2 linked regions of the Homo sapiens genome follow. The protein of the gene in region 2 interacts with the protein of the main gene of each other region in a pairwise test. Each region holds a gene or a part of one and is shown on either strand. Other genes may lie near its edges.

Evidence for each region. The genes of interacting proteins can lie anywhere in the genome.
Region 1: the proteins of ASCL1 (region 2) and MEF2C interact in a two-hybrid assay, tested with the Homo sapiens proteins (one study listed by BioGRID).

The regions. Positions count from the first base shown.
Region 1 is NC_000005.10:88,872,317-88,880,901, forward strand, and holds part of MEF2C (myocyte-specific enhancer factor 2C), read right to left. Parts: intron 1-8,585. UniProt on the Homo sapiens protein: Transcription activator which binds specifically to the MEF2 element present in the regulatory regions of many muscle-specific genes. Controls cardiac morphogenesis and myogenesis, and is also involved in vascular development.
Region 2 is NC_000012.12:102,953,199-102,962,258, forward strand, and holds ASCL1 (achaete-scute homolog 1), read left to right. Parts: upstream 1-4,475; 5' UTR 4,476-5,046; coding exon 5,047-5,757; 3' UTR 5,758-5,804; intron 5,805-6,163; 3' UTR 6,164-7,315; downstream 7,316-9,060.

The sequences.
Region 1 (8,585 bases), on a different chromosome or scaffold from region 2:
TTTAAAATTCATGGATGGTATCATTTTGTTTCTTTGGTTCCATTTCTGGTTCTAAAAATAATATATTTATTTAATAACATCAAATCTGTGAAAGGTTTTGATTTTTTTGGAGAAAGAAGTATATTGAACTTAGCAATCATTAGAATTGACCCACGACTGTGTAAGAATTAGATACTTGCTCTGAATGTGACCCAAATTTAATGGACTGAAAGTATTATTGAAAAATAATTTTAATAACCATCCCACCAAAAATTTCTAAATCACCATTAGCAGAAACTTAAAATGACTAAAATATAGTACAATGCTATGATAATAATTTAATATTTACTGATCATTTACTATGTATCTGCATTACGGTTTTATATGTATTATCCTAGTAAATCCTTAAAAAACTTTAAGAGGTGGGTGATTTTATAATTCCCATTTTACAGATCCTGGTACTGGGGCTTTCTGGTCATTAAAACACCTGCCTAAAACCACTAATCAGTAAATGGGAGGCTGGCTTTTGAACCCAGTTTTGGTCGTTGTTCTTAATCATTATTCTTTATTGTTTATGGACATGTTTGTCTAATAGCATAATATGTAGAATCAAAGAAATGATATTAAGTGTGGAAATGGAGTCTCCAAACTCTTTATGCTTGTTTAAACGATCTTCTCTCTCGAGAGTGTATCTTCATCCTTTCATGCTTTTTCTCTCTCTCTGCTCTCCCACACCGATGCTCCCCACACCGTACACACATACACACACACACACTCACACCGTTGGAGTTCTGGTCTAACACTTACTTCATAGAGCAACCTAAAAGGCATAATGTGGTTGACCTTGTCCAATAACTGTACCACTTCCTGGGAGTTCATGAAGCTGTTCATGTTTGCAACGAATATACCATCCAGTGACTCTAAAGCTGCTGTTGTTCTTTACAAAGACATGATCCTATAGCCCTGGCTATTTCAAGATCAGTGTCCGCAGTTGTTTCAAGACATGGCATTGGGCTGTGATGAACCACATCAGTTTCTCAAGTGTAAGGAGGTAAGTTAGCATCTAAAACAATTCTGTCGCCCATGTGTAGTCAAAACAAGTTAAAAGTGCACTTGCTTTCACGATACCAAATACTTTGAAGCAAGAAGGAAGCTCAGACAGGAGAGAATCCAAAAACAATGAAAACGGAAGGAAAAAACACTGAAGTCAAGAATTCTCTGATTTTTTTGAAGCTATAAAATGAGAGAAGCGGAGGGAAAAAATCACATAACGCTCACTCTAAATCAAGCAAGATCAAACAGTCTTGGAAGGGATATTGCCGATTCATTTCAACCCAAGAGTCATAGGGAAACAATTAATGGGTACTGAGTATCTTACTCAGCCTTCTGCAAATCTATCAATGTCGTCACGGATTTTTTTTTTTTTTTTTTTTTTTTTTTTTTGGTTTATGTAAAGGGGGAAATATTCAAACATGAAATGAAAGAAAAAAATAGTCAAAATTATTTACTTTAACTTCTAACCTATATAGAGTCTAAGTGAACTTCCAATAAATACTAGAAATAAAAAAAAGATTCACTTAAAAATAGACAAATTTGTTAGATTTCATTTAGTTAAGAAAAATCATCCAGAATAAATTAGGTCTGGATTTATATAGTACCTTTTAAAGATATTAATGTTAACTGTAATAGAAGGGTGAAAAGATCTACTTTTTTAACCACATAAACCTTTACAAAAAGACCACCCAACAACTTAATAAGGCTCCTCAAATATGGATGAAAATCCGGTACCTTAAAGAAGTAATTGTTTTAATGGTTAACAGAGTTTAAAATTTCCCAAATTCTTGACCAGAGAATTACTTACTAGGCGAACCTCTAATAGAGTCAACGTTTTAATCGGGTATAGTTTTATCATACTTAAATGGCAAGATAGCGAATTTTCTATTTTAAAATTTCTATTCCATACATATGTTCAATAGTTGAAACTTTACAATGTATCTGACAATACCAACGGGTATGATTCAAATGACCCTACTGTTCCAGAGAATTTCCAAGAAAATAAAGAAATCTCTTACAATAGCCTAAATAGAAGCATAGTTTTAATTTGAATTTTTAAATGTGTGTAATTTTCTAACAAATAAATGTCAGAAAGTATTGACTCATATATATATTAGCATTTACAAAACAAAGTTTAACATCTTTTTCCTCCCTTGCTAATGGGTCTTGAAAAAGTGCCAGGTGTAGGAATATGCCATTGTTATCATATTCTTATAAGCTGCCTTATACATTTTTTAAGATCTATGTTGTATTAATTTCTTAACAATTTATCGGGAACATTTGCATTCACAGAAAAATAAATGCTTGATATTTAAACATAATTAAAATTATCATTCTTATCTATTTAAGTTTCAAGAGAAATAAAATTAAATTACACTTAACTGTTGGTCTAATTTGGTAAATTTCATATAGGCAATTAATAATTAGTGTAGTGGGTTAACAACTAAGCTAACATTTATACACTATTCATATACTGTTAAATCAATAATTTAGTTTAAAAATAAAATTAGAACAAATATTTATTAAGTGGTAACACTTTCTCCTGAAGGCTCCCATTTAATACATTTCTAAAGAAGAAGGCTAGTTTTAGAAAGGTGTGCTGGCAATAATCTGATTGCACCTCATACAAATGAGAATTCTACTGATTGAAAGGAGCCATGGCAGCTAGAAATTATTTTTTAATAGGATTTTTTAAAAATCACATGGGTAACAGTTGAAAATGTAACTGGTAATTAAAGCCTGCTTCTTAACAAAGTTTTACTTTATTTTTTAAGGAGAAGTACAAGCTTTTAGACTATAGTTTCAGATACAAGGAATATTAGTGCAGATATTTAGAAGTCAATTTATTTTGCATGGTATTATACACAGAACTTACACTGTACCTTTCAAATGAAAAGCATAAAACAAATCTGAAAACTAAAAGCTCACATTTTCTCCCCCTGTACTCTCTATTTTGACCTAATAATCATTTAAAGTGTGGGTGTTTATCAATAAAAATTTTTGCAGCACCACACATTGTGGTGGAACGTTGCTATTTCCCGAGATAAGTACAAAAAACCTCAATGCTAATTTGCATCACAAAATGATCTAACATATCTGGAATATAATGCACAAGCTTCATTGAAAAGAAACCATTATATTTTTCTTTTCGAAACAAAAAGTACAGATATCTGATTGGGTCTGGGTGTGCTGGAGGTAGGGGGTGGGGAAGAGGTCTCATTTTCTATCTCACACCTATTGTTTTATGTATTCTAAACTGCTATATGGGAATAAAAAGGAAACATACTGAATCCACTTTGCAGTTAATGTCTTAGTAATTTAAGAGGCAGAATTTTCAAGTTAAAGAAGGGAAACATTATACTTTTCCTTTCCCAAAGGTATTTCCCCTATTTCCCAGGAAGAAGGCCCTCTGTTCCTTACCCTATGTAGGGGGAAATAAAGGACATTAGTTAGGGCTGAAATCACTCCGAGACAGAAGAGGGGAAGTTTATGATGTGGCACTGTGCACAGTATCTGGTCTGCAGCCAGGAAGTTTTCATTTTGTAGCTCTGCTGCCAGTACCTGCCCTGCATATTCAGGAATAAAAATATACCAGAACTCTACCTGAAAAACTGTGGATGTTACAAAGAATTAAAAGAGTTTATTTTTCTTTCTTTATCCTGAGTGTAATTACTGTTTTTTAAAAAGAAAGAGCTGAAACTGTAGTAACTGGAGTTTTTTTTTTTTTTTTTTTTCCTTTTTAAACTCCTCAAACTACCTTCCCACAAAGCCATTTAAGTTAAATGGTACATTTACAGACTCACCTACATGAAGGATATAACTTAAAACATCTGCTTAGACACATACGTTCTGTTCAGATATAAAAAATGTGGCAAAAATTTTTAAAAATATAGGACCACTATATTCTTAAAATGTGTGTTCTTCTGTGTGTGTGTGTTCATTCATTCAAGAGATCTTTGACTGCAATTAGGTAGTCGGTCCTATAAAGGCTTCCTTGTGTGACGATAATTTCTAAAAGTAAAATGCTCCAGTGAATATTTCTGCTAAATAATCATATCTTAAAATTACTTTAAAGAAATTCCAATCCCTCATGTTACATTAAGCAATAATGCCAGTTTTCCATAATATGCCTTAGTTGTACCACCTTATTCAGGGTCGACAATTAATTAGAAGACAAAAAGTATAAATCGCGTGTTTATTAAGTAGCAGACAAATTTCTTTGTCTGTCTCAACATATTTACATTAATGTGTTTATTTTCTAATTTTGAAAATAAATAAGCATATTTAAGCCAAAGCTGCCTGTCTTCGGGGTTTGGGGAAGGATGCACATTCTCTTGCTATCCTTCTAACTTGCTGAAAGAATCACAGGTGTGAAAAAAAGACAGGCATAGTTCTTGGCTGATTTTTAAAAAAACACTTCACATTCTATCGAAGGACCATATCCACTTCTTTTTTAATCCAATATGCTAGGAATCCATAGTATCTGAGAGCAATTTATATGAATTCTTCATGTGCATCTTATCTATGACAACAAGATAGAAGAGGAAAACCAGACCACCACGCTCATGATGCTATTTGGAAAAAGCAGGTTCTCAAAAGGGACTGATTCAAAGATCAGTTAGTTCCTCCAGCCTCTAAAAACAAGTTTTGGGTACTTAATTTAAATCACTGCTTGAGGACTTGCACTGTCATTCTACATGAATCCCAACCACTTGCAGGAGGAACAACATTGCTCCATTCATTTCAAATTTACAGCATTAAGAATTAATAAAGTCTTTATAATGTCTGCATTATTTAAGAGTAATGATTCCTGAAGAAATCTGCCTGTAATATGTTTACTGTTTTTATTGCTTGTAATGTCGTCAATTTCCTTTTCAATGCCCTCAAAAGATTCTCTTCATGTACTTTGAACTTTGTTTACATTGGCTGTATTTTAAAAATATATACCAAGATTTAACTTGTACAATAAAATGACAATGTACAGCAAATGAATTATGGCGATGACAAATAAATGTTACTCATATCACCTAAAACTAAACCATAAATTTGTATAACATGTATCACCTAATTTCCATATTTAATAGGAATATGATTTTTTGCAGTAAACATTAAAATAGTATCAAGGAGATGTGAGATAATAGTATATTAAATAACCTTTTCTATAATCTTATTTTTACAATGGTATTCTTTGTCATAGAACATTCTTTAATTATTTTTCTTTCACAGACAAAAATAACAAAAGAACATCAATGCCATCTTCGTATTCTTAAAAGAGAGGGGTAAGGAATGAATGCTTCCAGCACCCTTTATTTTGTTATGCCTCAATATTGTCTGTAAAATAACATGGTTACTAAAAAATTCTTGATTTGAGCAAGACCAAAATTATTACAGTGTACTTTACAGTTATTTCACGCATGAATGTTAAAACATACTGAAATTATAAAACTTTCATAGACTTTTTTTCAGTATTCAGTTTAAGATAGGTTGTCAATAAGAGCTACTTTAAAAAAAACTGACAATTTTCTTTGCTCACTAACTATAGGAGATCATTGCAAATTATTTTCTTTCTCATGCTGCTATTCACTTACGTACTGCATATTTGCTTCAATTCTCCAAGGGAAGAAATGTGGCTCTTGTGGGAAAGGTCCACCCCTTTCTACATGTTTGCTTCCTTGAACGAAAGGAACACACCCCCTTACATTCTTTGAAATGTGTCCAACAATTGTAATAGCACTGTATTATTGACTAAATTAGAAAATCTTAAGTGATAGTCAAATATTGTTAATACACTGTGTATTTTGAGTCAGGAGAACTAAATGACACATATACAGAATGAAGTTCAATCTAGTGTCTACACTTGGATGCTATAGAATGTTTGTGTTAGTAGAAGAAACTCATGAATGTTTTTGTGTACAGGTATGTTGTATGACACCTCAGGAAGAGGCCCATGAATGTTACAAGTTTTTGATGGCCTCCTTTCAATTTAAGACCCATTACAGGAATGACCCCTTTCTTTCATAAGTATATTGGATAAAAAACATTTAGAAACTTAGGAAGTAGAATCAGAGAGCTGTTTGAAATCACAAACATGCAAAAATATCACAGGTCTACGCTTACCATCCTAATGGCAGAAAACTCACACCAAAGTTGGCACCCACTAACTTCTACCTCATTAAGGCAAGCTGCTGGTCATTGGATATTGTGTTCTAACACGACTTCCCTTTATGTAGAATAATATGTTTCCTTCCAAGGAAAGTTTTTCTTTTGTTGTTATTTTCTAATAAATATACTCCATATTTATAGAAAATTTTGCATTTATCTTTGATTTTATCTTTTCTAAATAGTCTTTCTTTATTCCACTTTTACAAAGAAATTTTCAAGTGTAAAGACACAGCAGGAAAAAAAATTATATCTCTTTTAAGATATTTTAGTGTGTAAATGAAATGGATAGTCCTTGTGCAATTTATCAGGCATTTCAGAATGAACCCAACTGTATAATTCCCAGGCCTACAAAATGAAAGCTTTGTTATTTACCTATGTTTCTCACTTGAAATAAGAGTGAATATAAAGAGTGAATATATAACTGCAACTGAAGGTAATAAACTTGTTAAAACTTAGTAAGATATTGTGATGGTCAAAGAAAACCTGCAAGTGCGTGCCACAAATCCACTCAGATGAAACATCTCATTCACTAAAATTTTCTATCTTATTATAATAGTGCACAGAAAATTAAACACATAAATATTAATTTTATGTATCACAGATGATGTAGGCAATGAAAATGCAATGTTTACATTTATGGGTGACTCATTAGTGTTTTATTGTGTGAAACACTAGGAGGCATCAGTTGGGTAAAAAAGGACTTCAATTTTAGAAGAAGCAAAAAATTACTGTAAAGTTGGGTGTGTAAGAAGTTAAGATTTTCAAAATGTTATTATGTAAACCAAAACTTTATTCTCTGAAATAAACTCTCAAAACATCATATTCTGTTGTAAAGAATGATCTTTATATAACATTCATGAAATATATATATTATATATATATATAAAATTTGACCAATGAACTTTTATGAAGATATGTTTCACATATATGGATTCATAACTATGTAATTACACATTTTTATGTAGAATATATTTGGTAACAGAATAACATAATGGATATTGACTATTATGCATTTTCTGCTGAATTACTCAATAACATGAGTGTATGTTTTATTTCTGGCAAATTCTGTTTTGTGCTCTTTATAACGCCTCTGAAAATGTCTAATGCATTTAAGCCTTACAATACCTGCTTCATGTAAGCAGACAATTTAATGTTTGTTCATAAAGAAATGATGGAACTTAAAATTTACACAATGAAGACATACATAAAAAAGGACATGTTTTCTCTTACTTCACTACTGAAAGCCTGTCATTTGAAAACTGAATTTTCCATTGTTTGAATGGATCATAATGATGAAGCAACAGGGTCAAAGTATGCTTATCTAAGCAATCATTTGAAATTGAGTGTCTTGCCATTCCTCAACAATCAGCTTTTATCTTTGACCTATCAAAATAACATGTGAACTATGTAATCTGCCTTTTGTAACGTGCATAGACTCTGTTGTTCCTGGTTTTGTGAATCACCTCTGTAATCTGGTTTGATTTCCTAAAGGTGACAGATCTCGGTGAACAGTCAAGCTTTACTGAGTGCAAGACAGTCCACGCGCCTATAAGATTAAGGTACAGTGCTAAGGACGGGGATCTTAATTACCTGTCTTTCCACATGCAGCATACTGATGGAACAACAGTGATTAAATCATTTCATCGTGTCTAGGCAATCACCACATTAGTATAGAATGAATACGTGTATTTTGATAAGTTTTAGATATTAATTTGTGTGGTATTTTCTCAGAGGATGTGCTTTTGAAAAAAAAGTGTAACTTTATTAATAATCTCTTAACAGTTCATCTTGTGACCATTAATTGCATATTAAATTCTTCTATGTTGCTTCGAATCATGTCCCCAAAGCCAGAATTCTGTTTAATAACTATGTCTTTGTTGTTATGTAGCACAAGTATTGCTGCACAGCTATTTCCCCATTTTTGTCACTTTCTGAGATTTCATAGACTCAAATTATACCACACTTTAGAGTTGAGAAATAAAACCACAAAATATACTACAATAAACAGAAGAAAGTTTTAAAAGATAATGTTAAGATATGCTAAGGAGTTATTCAGTGCTGTTCTTTATAAAAGAAGTTTAAATAAAGTATTTATTAGAAAGATACGTTTGCAGTGTTATGGAATTTATTGATTCCGTTAAGTTAGGGCCAAGGAAAAAATTTCAGGTATCTTTTCCCCCAAATTTTTCAAAATGAACATGTTTACAAAGAAGAAAAGAGGCAAAGTGCCTCTTGTTATCTAAGTTTCATGGAGTTATCTAGTATTAATGTGCTTCTCTCTTGAAAAGTTAATATCTGTGATTGCACACTTTTAAAATATGAATAGCTCAGAAAAGGTGGAAAACTGTTTTTATTATAAATTGCTCATTTGTTATTGAAATAAAAAACAA
Region 2 (9,060 bases):
AGGATTACACTTAAAATCCTGTAACAAAATCCAGAATCCAAGACTTGTGTTCATCTTTGTATTCCCTTTGCCCCTGATTCAGAATCTAACTAAAGTTAAAAATATAACTTTATTAAATTATTTGTCCAATGAAAATCCTAGTTTCACTTTTAATATCAATCCCTCTCCCCAAAGAGAAAGCATAAATTGGTTTTCAAAGAGATGAGTCATATCTTCTTTTTACAGAGAGACAACACACAATCAAGAGAACATACATAGGTCTTGAGCTTCAGCAAAGGTGGTACTGGCCTGGCCTTCAGCTGTGAATGGAAATTAAGGTGGCAGGAGACTCAGGGCACAGGGTCTCTGATCTCAGGGCAGCAGACCCCTTTGGCCACTAGGAAAGCCATCTCCCCCTACAGATCCTGATGCTGAATGAAGATAAAGTCTAATCTGAAGTATGGTTCAGCTCCAGAGTGTTCTGATATAGGAAAGGGGTCTGAAGGTGCAGAAATTAAGTCCCTTATTGTATTGGAGGAGAAAGAGAAGCCTTCTTATCTTTCTGCAATGTCTGTACTCTGGGTGATACTCACCAAAGGGGATCAGTGCTTTGTCCTTCCCACTCCCCCACCCTCATGACAAGACAGAACACTGAATGCTGCTATTCGGAAAAAGTGAAAAGGCAATCTCTGATATGTGGAGAGACTTGCAAAGCAAATTACCCAACAACATCTGATTTAATTCTCATAACACCCTTGACATACAGGCAAAGGGAGTACTACCACCTCATTTATGAATGAAGGTATCAAACCTTCCTTTTGTGAGTTGTTTACTTCTCCCTTCATGTGAAGATAAATGGGACATTGTTCAAGTGTCTTAGCCAACTAAAGCCCTAAGGACTTGCTCAGAATCAGGCCCACTGTGTGGCAAGGGAGCCAAGAAAGCAGGGCCCAGTGGCTCTGCTGAAGCCCCTTGCATGTGGAGGCCACAGAACATCTCTATAGTCTATCTTACTTGCTACTTTTCATGTCTAAAAATCGGGTTACTATCTCCATCATCTTAATATGCCAGTATCACCACCATTTCTCAAAAATGACAGGAATGACTCACCCCTAGGTGCTGGGACAGTGAGACAGAGTGGCACTGGATCTCCATTGGCTGGAGTGATGATCACAGAGTGGTTCCAGGAAGCCAAGTGCTGAGGCTCCTCCTGCCACACACCCTTTCCTGGGTGGGTTGTGTGAGCATGACTTTCTTATTAATCCCTTTCTCTTTAGACCTGGGCTAGAGTGCTCTACATACATATCATTGAAGTCTCACAACTCTTGGAGGTAGATACTATAATTACTGGCATAGGTGAAATAGAGACCCCTAGAGTGTCTCAGGGTCACACAGCTCTCAGGTAAAGGGGCCTAGATACCAAGTCAAATCAGCCTGCTTTATCTGGAATTCCATGGGCCTAGGAGAGCAGAACATGTGGCCAGTTCTCTCAGGTCGGGAGGAGGGATTATAATCTAGGTCACACAGTCAGAGGCAGGATTCTAATTTTGGCTCCTGAGCCTCCCATCTTTTGCTTCACACTGGTGAAAACAACCAGAAAGCCAATATCAATGGAAAACTCTCTTGGTAGAATCCCCAAGGATAGAAATGCAAACCTCTAAAGAAAAATTATAGACTGTTCTACCCTAGGGTTGGAGGAGAAAGTGGAGATGACAGTGTTGAGGTGCAAACTCCAGGTTTACTTGAGTGGGGGGAGGAGAACGCCTCGGTTCTTGGAAGGCTTTGCAAAGCATGTAAGGAAGAAAACTTAGCATACTAGGGTGAGAAGAGTGAGGTCAGGCTCAGGGCTGGCATAGGGAGAATAGAGACAAATGTTCTGGCGGTTTTGGCCAGAAGGATCCCAGCAACGACTGTCCTTCCTCCTGGCCTGAGGCCAATGAGTAAGGCCACTACAAGACAAGGCTTCTTCACTACAATGCACTTCCACTCCATTTGGGCACCCATTTCATGGTGTGTGTAGGGGGGAGGAGGAGAGGAGGTTCTGTCCTCTACTTCCCTGGTATTGAGATCTCTGTGTATGCATCCTGGAAAAGGAAACACGTGCTGGCTACCAGCAAATTTTCTAAGCTGTTAGATACAAGTTTCAAAATTAGCTACTGTACATCCCTTGTGTGTAGATCAGAAAACTGAGGCCAGTAGAGGCAGAGGGACTTGTTCAAGGTTATAAGGCACCATTGTGGTAGAGCTCAGACTCGGGACCTTTGTGAAGTGAGTCCAAGTTAGTAGGGAGTTTGGGGCTCATGTTTCAGCTTAATGTAAAAGAAAACACATCTAGATGCTTCCACATTTGCGACACTCCCTCCCACCCCCAACACTCAACTATTTGGCTGAAATAGAGTGAATGGGGCATTAGGACACAGCTGGGTCATGTGGGAGGTGGGTAAGGAGTGCCTGAATAATTCCTATTTCTGCAAGTGGTCTGAGGCTTACTCTGGCTGGGAGGTGCAGGGTGCCCAGGCTGTGTTGTGACTCTGCTTTTGGGTGCTCACCTCCTATACTTCCAGAGACCTCTTAGGCCCTTTCCTTGGTCAGGGATGTGGAGAAAGGCCTGAGGTGTGAATCCCACGGGGTTCAGCCAGTCCTGTGAGGCCATCAAGCCACAGGTTACCATGGGGAGAAGGGGCTGTGTGGCTGGGAAAGGTTACAGAATTGACCTCTGTTGGCACGATTTGGTCCTATACCTCTGAAGCCTACCTATTCTGCAAAGATGAAACTGAGGTAGAGAAGAGAGGTGATTCACTTCGGGAGCCGCCCGTCATTACTGCCCACCATCATCACTATTGTTCCAGAAACACTCAGCCAGCCCACATACCAAGAGCAGCTCCCTGGGTCATCCCCTTGGCCCTTTAGAAAGATCCACCTCCACAAAGGGGAGTTCAATTAGAACCAATTATCCGGATAATTCACCACAATCATTCCTGCACCCAGATCTCGGATTATTTCTACTGGAAAATCAAATGGATGATTGCCCTCCACTTCGTTCTGCCTATGTAGACAAGACCTGAGACATGCCCCAGCCTCTCTCCGGACCAGATCCTTAAAGAGATGGGGCCTATTGCTTGGTCTGCTTTCTCCGCAGCGCCGCGTCCCCAGACGTCCTGAAGCTGGACGGGGTTCTGGCCAGAGAGCGCCAGGGCCGAAGGCCCAGGAAGGACGCCTGGGCAGGCGCTGTCCAAGCGGTCGAGCGACGGCTGCAAGCGCCTCCCCCTCCCTCTCGGCGCCAGCACGCGGCCCCGCCGGGCTCCGCTCCCAGTCGCCTGCCACCGGGCCGCCGGGCACACGCCTGGGGCGGGATGGTGGCTGCGCCAAGGCCGCCGAGGTGCCCGCGGCGGCGCCGAAGAACCAGGAATCCCCACCAGTGCCCTAAGCGCCATCACTCAACCCCCGCCCCGCATCTTTCTTCTCCGAGGGTCTGGGAGTATCCCAGAGCACTCCCTTCTTTATGATATCCGCTAAGCTGGTCCGGAAATAATCTTTATGGGGAGGGGGTGGCGGTAGGGGGCGATGGTACAGGGGGCCAGAGGTCATCCTAGGGGGACGTCCCTGCCATATACACCCACCTACAGGACGGCTCACAACCACTCCTCGGTGTCGCTTCCCCGCGGCCCCCCACACACTTGCTCAGTTATGGGGAGCACATCCTAGTTTTTAGAGCTGAATGGGACATTAGAGACCATATTCTGTGGCTGCAGACGAGGAAGCGAAGGCTCAGAGAGGATGCCACTTCGAGGAGCCACAGAGCATTGAGAGGACGCCTTGGGACTAGAACCCACGTTTTCACATAGTCCAGCACTTTTTTTCACTGTTCTGGACGGAGTCCCTCCCCCAACCATGTTTCTAAACTTCAATCGTAATTTGCTCCAATTTCTAGGGTCACCGAGGAACCCGAAGAGAATAACAGTGAGGAGAGAGAGAAAACAGGAAAAGTCGAGCCCCACTCCCTCCTCACCTCCACACCGTTCCTGTGCCATTTTTTCTGCCCAAACCCTTCCCTGCGCTTTGCTTCAAGTTCTTAGTAGAATCCAAGAGAGCTTCACCCCAAGTCTTTCCACCTATACACCTCAATTCCTAGAGCCATTTGTCCCTCCTGTGACGCCCCCCACCCCCTTCCTAAAGCCACCCCCGGCAGCAGCCCGCCCCGAGCGCGCCGCCTGTTTATTCAGCCGGGAGTCCGGCACGCGCCAGGCGCACGCACTGCAACAACAAACCCAGCTGAATGGAGAGTTTGCAAGGAGCGGGAGAAAGGAACGGGAGGGGGGGAGAGGAGAGGAGGAGGGGGAGTTTAGGGAGTGGGTGGGAGGAAGAGGTAAGAGGAGGGGGGGGAGTGGGGGCTGCAGCCGCTCGCTGCAGCAGCGGGGAGTGGGGGGCGAGGCGGGGCCAGGGCTGCGCGTGGGGCTGGGTGTCCCATTGAAAAGGCGGACGCACTCCGGCAGCCCAGCACTCTCTCACTTCTGGCCAGGGAACGTGGAAGGCGCACCGACAGGGATCCGGCCAGGGAGGGCGAGTGAAAGAAGGAAATCAGAAAGGAAGGGAGTTAACAAAATAATAAAAACAGCCTGAGCCACGGCTGGAGAGACCGAGACCCGGCGCAAGAGAGCGCAGCCTTAGTAGGAGAGGAACGCGAGACGCGGCAGAGCGCGTTCAGCACTGACTTTTGCTGCTGCTTCTGCTTTTTTTTTTCTTAGAAACAAGAAGGCGCCAGCGGCAGCCTCACACGCGAGCGCCACGCGAGGCTCCCGAAGCCAACCCGCGAAGGGAGGAGGGGAGGGAGGAGGAGGCGGCGTGCAGGGAGGAGAAAAAGCATTTTCACTTTTTTTGCTCCCACTCTAAGAAGTCTCCCGGGGATTTTGTATATATTTTTTAACTTCCGTCAGGGCTCCCGCTTCATATTTCCTTTTCTTTCCCTCTCTGTTCCTGCACCCAAGTTCTCTCTGTGTCCCCCTCGCGGGCCCCGCACCTCGCGTCCCGGATCGCTCTGATTCCGCGACTCCTTGGCCGCCGCTGCGCATGGAAAGCTCTGCCAAGATGGAGAGCGGCGGCGCCGGCCAGCAGCCCCAGCCGCAGCCCCAGCAGCCCTTCCTGCCGCCCGCAGCCTGTTTCTTTGCCACGGCCGCAGCCGCGGCGGCCGCAGCCGCCGCAGCGGCAGCGCAGAGCGCGCAGCAGCAGCAGCAGCAGCAGCAGCAGCAGCAGCAGGCGCCGCAGCTGAGACCGGCGGCCGACGGCCAGCCCTCAGGGGGCGGTCACAAGTCAGCGCCCAAGCAAGTCAAGCGACAGCGCTCGTCTTCGCCCGAACTGATGCGCTGCAAACGCCGGCTCAACTTCAGCGGCTTTGGCTACAGCCTGCCGCAGCAGCAGCCGGCCGCCGTGGCGCGCCGCAACGAGCGCGAGCGCAACCGCGTCAAGTTGGTCAACCTGGGCTTTGCCACCCTTCGGGAGCACGTCCCCAACGGCGCGGCCAACAAGAAGATGAGTAAGGTGGAGACACTGCGCTCGGCGGTCGAGTACATCCGCGCGCTGCAGCAGCTGCTGGACGAGCATGACGCGGTGAGCGCCGCCTTCCAGGCAGGCGTCCTGTCGCCCACCATCTCCCCCAACTACTCCAACGACTTGAACTCCATGGCCGGCTCGCCGGTCTCATCCTACTCGTCGGACGAGGGCTCTTACGACCCGCTCAGCCCCGAGGAGCAGGAGCTTCTCGACTTCACCAACTGGTTCTGAGGGGCTCGGCCTGGTCAGGCCCTGGTGCGAATGGACTTTGGAAGCAGGTAGGTTGCATTTTGGGGTGGGCAGGGGGGTATTCTTGCCTTCGTCCTCCCTCTGAGTGTCTGTGGAAGTGGGGATGTCTCCAAGGAGATAAGGGGATTTTTATTTAAAGAATTTGTGAAAGTTGGTCGATTTCAAGTCCTAGTTTGTTAGTTTCAGCACTGGCCTCTGAAAATGGCCTTGCCCAGGTCTCCAAGGAGTGAAGGGTAGTAGTGAGGTGCAGAGATACTGGTGAACCGAATACTGGGACATGTTAAAAGAGATGTCTACCTGACAGACTCTTTCCCCAGACCTCCATCTCCCTCTACCACTAGCCTACACGTTCAAATTAACCTCTCCTGTTCTTTTCCTTATGTTATAGGGTGATCGCACAACCTGCATCTTTAGTGCTTTCTTGTCAGTGGCGTTGGGAGGGGGAGAAAAGGAAAAGAAAAAAAAAAGAAGAAGAAGAAGAAAAGAGAAGAAGAAAAAAACGAAAACAGTCAACCAACCCCATCGCCAACTAAGCGAGGCATGCCTGAGAGACATGGCTTTCAGAAAACGGGAAGCGCTCAGAACAGTATCTTTGCACTCCAATCATTCACGGAGATATGAAGAGCAACTGGGACCTGAGTCAATGCGCAAAATGCAGCTTGTGTGCAAAAGCAGTGGGCTCCTGGCAGAAGGGAGCAGCACACGCGTTATAGTAACTCCCATCACCTCTAACACGCACAGCTGAAAGTTCTTGCTCGGGTCCCTTCACCTCCTCGCCCTTTCTTAAAGTGCAGTTCTTAGCCCTCTAGAAACGAGTTGGTGTCTTTCGTCTCAGTAGCCCCCACCCCAATAAGCTGTAGACATTGGTTTACAGTGAAACTATGCTATTCTCAGCCCTTTGAAACTCTGCTTCTCCTCCAGGGCCCGATTCCCAAACCCCATGGCTTCCCTCACACTGTCTTTTCTACCATTTTCATTATAGAATGCTTCCAATCTTTTGTGAATTTTTTATTATAAAAAATCTATTTGTATCTATCCTAACCAGTTCGGGGATATATTAAGATATTTTTGTACATAAGAGAGAAAGAGAGAGAAAAATTTATAGAAGTTTTGTACAAATGGTTTAAAATGTGTATATCTTGATACTTTAACATGTAATGCTATTACCTCTGCATATTTTAGATGTGTAGTTCACCTTACAACTGCAATTTTCCCTATGTGGTTTTGTAAAGAACTCTCCTCATAGGTGAGATCAAGAGGCCACCAGTTGTACTTCAGCACCAATGTGTCTTACTTTATAGAAATGTTGTTAATGTATTAATGATGTTATTAAATACTGTTCAAGAAGAACAAAGTTTATGCAGCTACTGTCCAAACTCAAAGTGGCAGCCAGTTGGTTTTGATAGGTTGCCTTTTGGAGATTTCTATTACTGCCTTTTTTTTTCTTACTGTTTTATTACAAACTTACAAAAATATGTATAACCCTGTTTTATACAAACTAGTTTCGTAATAAAACTTTTTCCTTTTTTTAAAATGAAAATAATCAGCTGACTCTAAGCTTTCTTTGACTCTGATGCCCCTGGTCCAGTTTTATGAAAATGTCAAAGGGAAGAGGTGGATGGAGAAGAAAATGTTGCAAAACATGCTAAGTGGCAGAAATGACAATGATAAGTGCTATGGCCAGTCCCATCCAAATGGTTTCTTTATGATGAATGAGTGTGTGTTTGTGTGTGTGTGTGTGTGTGTGTGTATGTACATGTATATATGTTTTCTTTCTATCCTATGCTGCAAATGTACATGCCCACCAAAAAGAATAGATGGCTGCATTATCCTTTGATCAAAATTTAAAATCCCCCAAAAAAGTGAACCAGAAAGAGAGGGTCCTCCACCATTTTCCAATTCTCAACTCCATTCTGAGTTTCTCCCTGTGAAACTATGGTGGGGCTGGATGAAATAATGGAGACTAGGTCTGGGTGGGGAGGATGGTGGTTCTGGGATGGGGGTTGGAGAGGCATCCCTCTCCACATACAAGCTCCTAGTGGTGAGTATGTTTCTCTTCCCTCACTTCCAGGCATACATTTTCTACTCATTTTCTCCAATACACCTACTTGCTATATTGATTTTAAGTAAGAGGCATATATGATATGAATTCATTCCAAACGGATTGAGATTTTAATTAAAAAAACGCATTAGAAATGTGTGGTCGCTTTGAGACACTGGTCTATCTAAGCTTGTGACTCTATCCGAATAGCGTGAGCTGCGTGTAAAAGTACCCAATTACCAAGATTCAAAAAGAAATTGGTGGGTTTTTGGCTGGCTTGCTTCTTGTCAGTTAGCAAGGACGTGATTAGAATCCTACTCGGCCTCTCGCCGGCTCCTCGCTCGCCGCCTGCATTACTTGCAGATTCAGTTTGCGTGTCTCCAGCCAAGCGGAAAGCCGAGCGCAAAATGCATCTTACAAAACCCAACAAAGAACGGGTAGCCAGCACGTCTTCCAGAGTTAAAAATCTAGTCTGTGTTGGTACATCTATACCATTTAGTGGCACAGAATAATCATTTTTTAAAGCCACGATGCGCGGAGCACGCCACAGCGTCTGATGTCATTTTGCTAAATGACCCTCTATAGAATGCACATTGAGGCTTCAGTCCCTTTCAAAGAGATGAGCGTAATTAAGGAAAAAAAATCAGTAAATTCCTCATCGCCATAAATAATCGGACTTTCTGCCAGCAGTGGGCCAATTTAGAGCTTACTTGAGAGAAGTAATGCTTTTGTGATGCCTGCTTTTATTTTTATCTTCTCATTTGGAGGACCAGAGATGGGCTCCACCCCCACTCTCCATTTCTCTTTCCTTTAATTTAGCTCCTTTGCAAGATTCCAGATAAGGTATGCAAAGAAAGTGTAGCAAGTCATTTATGGCTATGAATATAACATTAGGATAATGTTTCAGCCCCCACAAAGGGGGATTTTTTTTTCCTTCTCCTGTGAGGACAGGTGTTCTTTACTCACTTCTGAATGGGAAATATCCAGTCTCGTTAAACTCGAGGCAAAGTTAGTCGTTGTTTGCCACAATGCGAAGGCAAACTCGAAAAATTCACAAAAACACACACAATTTTGCCTAAGCTAGGAAAGGGCAAAGCGAGGATTGGGCAAAATCTCATTACATCTGCTCTAATCGCTTAGCAACACAAAGCCGGGGCTTGTGCGGCGAAGGGAAGCCATTCACAGAGCTCTGACAGGCCGCATTCAGCGCGCGTTAGTCAGCTCCATAAATCACCGCTGCCCAT